2 separate regions of the Homo sapiens genome follow, and region 1 is linked to region 2. The links come from fine-mapping of genetic effects on plasma protein levels. Region 2 holds a variant in brackets. A gene starts in the other region. All regions are shown on their reverse strands. Region 1 holds the start of HYAL1 (hyaluronidase 1). Region 2 has its middle 71 kb from the start of LINC02403.

Evidence for each region. PIP is the chance, under the fine-mapping model, that this variant and not a neighbour inherited with it causes the effect. Protein levels are from antibody-based Olink assays in UK Biobank. Linkage for the fine-mapping came from a reference panel and not from the study's own genotypes, which makes the PIPs less certain.
Region 1: it holds the start of HYAL1, and the variant in region 2 is fine-mapped to the plasma level of the HYAL1 protein (UK Biobank, PIP 0.99).

What each region holds. Positions count from the first base shown.
Region 1 is chr3:50,302,890-50,305,739 of GRCh38, reverse strand. It overlaps HYAL1 (hyaluronidase 1), which reads left to right and starts at 2,166. Exons shown (of 4, transcript NM_033159.4): 1 at 2,166-2,274; 2 at 2,760-2,850. The coding sequence starts at 2,784. RefSeq lists enhancers at 1,761-1,930, 1,748-2,682.
Region 2 is chr12:58,157,205-58,160,116 of GRCh38, reverse strand. No RefSeq gene overlaps it. Among named protein-coding and RNA genes, the nearest start is that of LINC02403, 71 kb to the right of the region's middle. The variant G/A (reference allele first, on the strand shown) is at 1,588.

The sequences.
Region 1 (2,850 bases), not on the chromosome of region 2:
ATATGGTGAAACCCTGTCTCTACTAAACATATAAAAATTAGCTGGGTGTGGTGGCACGCGCCTGTAGTCCCAGCTACTCTGGAGGCTGAGGCAGGAGAATCGCTTGAACCCGGGAGCCAGAGGTTGCAGTGAGCCGAGATCATGCCATTGCACTCCAGCCTGGGCGACAGAGTGAGACTTCATCTAAAAAAAAATTAGGCCAGGCGCGGTGGCTCACACCTGTAATCCCAGCACTTTGGGAAGCTGAGGCAGGCAGATCACAAGGTCAGGAGATCGAGACCATCCTGGCTAACACGGTGAAACCTCGTCTCTACTAAAAATACAAAAAATTAGCCAGGCGTGGTGGCGGGCGCCTGTAGTCCCAGCTACTCGGGAGGCTGAGGCAGGAGAATGGCATGAACCCGGGGGGCAGAGCTTGCAGTGAGCTGAGATCGCACCACTGCACTCCAGCCTGGGCGACAGAGCGAGACTCCGTCTCAAAAAATAAAAATAAAAAAAAAACAGAAGTACATAAGCTCTGTCCAGAGAGGTGGAGACAGCTCAAAGCACGGCCCCCCACTGGGGGCTTCCAGGTCACAGGCAGGTGACAGACAGATGGTTGCATTCTTTTGAGTTTCTGGTAGTCTTTCCAAAAGAGGCAATGGAGGCAATCATAATATGCATCTATGTCTGTAAGCAAAAGGATGACTTGAATAGAATGGGAGGCAGATTTGTCCTGAGCGGTTCCCAGCTTGAAGGGGCCCAAGATATTTTCCTTTCACATATTGAACAAGTGAAACCACAAATGAATGAACAAGCATGTGCTCACTGACAGCTCATATGCATGGTCACACAAACACAGGATCTCATGCTCACAAGACAGCAGGGCTCACACACACCCAGTCCCAGGCACTGGGTTCCACACTCACACCTACTTGCCACTGGAATTTGTGCAGAGGCTCAGATGGTCACTAAATGGGGCTTCACAAAGACACAGTCACTAACCCAGCACATATACAAAGGGTGATGACACAGCCCTGACTTCATGAACACAGTGCCTTTCAGAAACAGGTCCCTACAACAGGGATGACTTATCCACTAAGCACAATAGACCCAAGGCCTAGGGCCACAGTACTTTCAGGGGCCCACAAAATGTTTTTTTAATCAGAAGAAGAATATAAATGTAAATATATTAATAATTAATATATAATAGTGTAACCCAGACATGACCTCCTGGGCTCAAGCACTCCTCCTGCCTCAGTGTCCCAAGTAGCTGGGACTACAGGTACATACCACCATGCCCAGCTAATTTTTAATTTTTTTGTAGAGATGGGGTCTTGCTACATTGCCTAGGCTGGTCTCGAACTCCTGGGCTCAAGCAATTCTCCCACCTCAGCCTCCCAAAGTGCTAAGACTATAGCCATATATATATATATATATATATATATATATATATATATATATTTTTTTTTTTTTTTTTTTTTTTGAGATGGAGTCGCTCTCTGTCACCCAGGCTGGAGTATAGTAGCACAGTGGAGCAGTCTTGGCTCACTGCAACCTCTGCCTCCCGGGTTCAAGGGATTGTCCTGCCTCAGCCTCCCGAGTAGCTGGGATTACAGGCGCCTGCCACCACGCCCGGCTAATTTTTTGTATTTTTAGTAGAGAAGGGGTTTCACCATGTTAGCCGGGATGGTCTCGATCTCCTGACCTCGTGATCTGCCACCTCGGCTTCCCAAAGTGCTAGGATTATAGGCGTGAGCCTCCGCACCTGGCATGCCTGGCCATATTTTAAAATATTTTTTTTAAGGAGGAAAAGATCCACGAAAGTAAAGTGCCTAGGGCCCATCAATGTCAGATGCAGCCACGTGGACAAAGAACACTCCCTGAGCACAAGACACGAAAGAACCCGGTCTCCAGTGTCACAAACAGGCCTGCCCAGCAGGGTCTGCCCCTGCCCACCTCCTCCAGCCTAGGTAAGGCCACAAAGCCCTGCCCTAGTGCTGACAGCGTGGGAGGGGCCACTGTTGGCCCAGCCCCACCCCCAACCAAGATCCCTTTGCCAGGGATTCAGAGGTAGCCCTGATGCCTGGCTGGCCTGGCCTCCTAATCCAAGGCCCGCCCCTTGGCCCGCCCCTGGCCTGGGTGGGGTGACCCCCTACAAAAGCTCAGAATTTCCAGCAGCGGCTCCTTCCTCCAGGAGTCTCTGGTGCAGCTGGGGTGGAATCTGGCCAGGCCCTGCTTAGGCCCCCATCCTGGGGTCAGGAAATTTGGAGGATAAGGCCCTTCAGCCCCAAGGTCAGCAGGGACGAGCGGGCAGACTGGCGGGTGTACAGGAGGGCTGGGTTGACCTGTCCTTGGTCACTGAGGCCATTGGATCTTCCTCCAGTGGCTGCCAGGATTTCTGGTGGAAGAGACAGGAAGGCCTCCCCCCCTTGGTCGGGTCAGCCTGGGGGCTGAGGGCCTGGCTGTCAGCCACTCTTCCCAGAACATATGTCATGGCCTCAGTGGCTCATGGGGAAGCAGGGGTGGGCGAGCTTAGGCTAGAGCAAGTCCTGTGGGAGATGGCAGAGGCCTGGTCTGAGAGGCAACTCGGATGTGCCCTCCAGTGGCCATGCTCCCCTCCATGCGTCTCCCCTGCCCTCCTGGAGCCCTGCAGGTCAATGTTTAACAGAAACCAGAGCAGCGGTGGATTAATGCGCAAGGGCTCAGCCCCCCAGCCCTGAGCAGTGGGGGAATCGGAGACTTTGCAACCTGTTCTCAGCTCTGCCTCCCCTGGCCAGGTTGTCCTCGACCAGTCCCGTGCCATGGCAGCCCACCTGCTTCCCATCTGCGCCCTCTTCCTGACCTTACTCGATATGGCCCAAGGCTTTA
Region 2 (2,912 bases):
CCACAGACTACGTGGCTTAAACCACAGAAGTTATCTCACAGCTCTGGAGGCTACAAGTCCGAAATGAGGTTGCCAGTATGGTCAGGTTTTGGTGAGAGCTCTCTTCCTGGCTTGCACATGGCTGCCTTCACACTGTTCTCAGCTAGTGGAGAGTGCTGTGATCTCTCTTCCTCTTCTTTTAAGCATCCTTGGCTTTCAAAAAATACTGATGGACAGACCCTGCACCTTTGCATATTAAAGCTGCCTAACTTCTATACCCCATAGAAAACCAAGGCAGAACTCAGAGCAGCCAGCTGTTCTGTGTGAGGCAGCCTCCCGGCTGTGGACCCTGAAATGTGGCTCCAGTTTCTGACTTGAACTCCATTCCCCATATCTTTCTGTGTTAGTCCATTTTCACACTGCTTATAAAGACATACTTGAGACTGGGTAATTTATAAAGAAAAAGAGGTTTAATGGACGCATGTGGCCAATTGCACATGGCATGGGAGGCCTCACAATCATGGCAGAAGGCAAAAGCACATCTTATGTGGCGGCAGGCAAGAGAAAATGAGAGCCAAGTGAAAGAGGAAACCCCTTATAAAACCATCAGATCTTGTGAGACTTATTCACTACCATGAGAATAGTATGGGGAAAACTGCCCCATGATTCAATTATCTTCCACTGGGTCCCTCCCACAACATGTGGGAATTATGGGAGCTACAATTCAAGATGAGATTTGGGTGGGGACACAACCAAACCATATCACTCTCCTCCTGGGAGACTAAACAGGGCCTGTGTGGCTATCCCCTGCATCCACCCACATCTCTGTCCTCGCACAGTCACACCCCTCAACTTATACAAGGACTTCTCAGATGCACTCAGCACTGCCACAGCCCCTGCTTATGTCCCGGGCTCTCTCTGGGGATCCAAGCCTATGCTTTCCACAAGTTCGATCCCTCCTACCCATCTGACCTAGACCTCTCACCTGTCATCATCTAACAAGCAAGCATACATTAAGCCTAAACAGAATCACTCTGTCCTTCTCTTCTTTAGGTCTTACTTTCTAACCCTCTGCTTCTGTGATTCCTTCAAAGTGATTCTTTTCTTGGAAAATGAGAATGCCAAAGCTACTTAAAACCTCAAATCAGGCCCAGGCCAGCATTTACTAAAGCCAAACGTGAACCTTCCCTATGACCTGGCAATTGCATCCCTGAGTATTTACCCAAGAGAAATGAGTACATATGTCCACCAAAAGATACACAAAAGAATGTTCATAACCATGATAGCCAAAAGCTAGAAACAACCCAAAAGCTGATAGACTGGTAAATAGGTAAATAGATCATTGTATGTTCACACAAAGGAACACTAACAGCAATTTTTAAAAGAAAGCACTATTAATACATACAACAGCAGGATTGCATTCAGTGAACAAAGCCAGGCCCAAAAGCAAATGCACTGTATGATTACATTTGTATAAAGTTCAAGAGAAATGGAGTAAAAACTGCCTGGAAAGAGGCAAATTTCCTGTTTGCCTCTTGAGTAGGGTGCTGACCATGTGGGTATCTTCACATCGTCCAAGGAATTAATTCATCTTCATCCAAGGAATTA[G/A]TTCACCTTCATGGTGTGTCAAAAGACTTATTCTTTTGTATGTGTTCTTAAAAATCTGTACTCTGAACCATAGGTCCCAAAAGTCATTGATATGTCCTAGAATGTTAGAAATTAGTGGTCAACCTTATTTTACAGATTAAGAATGTGAGACTTAGAGAAGTTTGTTAGCTTGCCCAAGGTTAAATGGTTAATTATGGGCAAAACTGGGTATAGGAATCAGCTCTCCTGAGTCCCACTCTGATGCTTTTTCTTTTATGTCATTCTGTCACAACAAATGTATGATAAAATAATATTTTATCTTCTCAGAAATGGAGGGAAATATTCAAGAAAGACAAAGTGAGAAAAACTGGGAGCTCAGTTAAACCAGTGGATAATTTCCCACTCTCTAGTGACAGGTGAACTCTTTCAACTCAGGACAGTACACTGAATAGATTTTCAATCCCACATATTAAATGGAAGTGAAACATTGATGTTCTTCCAAAAAAGAGAGTAATTTTTTTCTTCTCAAAATGGCCACAATAATATCTTTTCAATTAAAGGTAGAATCCACTCAACTGGCCCCCTGCTAAAGAGCAAATTGATTTAATAAAGACAGGAAAATATCAGAATAATCATAGATGTCAAGTGATAAAAGTAAAAAATTAATGGATTACTATGTTGAGAGAAGAAAAGGTCTACTTAGGAGCTACATGTAACTTAGTCTTCAGGTTTGGTGACAAGGCTAATGAAGAAAGTCCATGTTTTAAAACACTCCTCAGAGACTCCAACTGCTGGCCAAGATTAGATAGCAGAGACCAGATTTACCTTCCCACTTAAAATAACTCCAAAAATTGACAAGAATGTGGAATTAAATTTTTTAAGACATGGGACATAAGGCAACAAAGGACACTGGTCACTGAAAGAAGACATTGAGATGAAACATATGATTGCTCCAACTCACTGCCTGAAAGAGTTTCCAGGCCCCAGCACTGGGATGGGGAATCTGAACAGAGCCTAGCAGACTCCCTTAAATAAGCAGACAGAGCTAGACATGTGGGAAGACTGAGGCAGCTGGAGTTTGAGGGACAGAGCATTGGAAGGGAGAGTGATGCAGAGAGACATAATTCCAGATATCTGCAATTGGTCCCCCCCTAGTACTCAGCTGAGTACTGATCATTGTATGTGTGTGAAGAAACTGCCTGGGTTGCCAGGGAAAGATCACCTGAAAGGATTAAAGGTAACTGTGTCTGGAACTTACACATGGTGGGATTGGTGCCTATTTTTACCAGCCAGACAGAAAAACCTTATGATTCTCAGGGCACTGGGTAACACAGAAGGGACTTTCA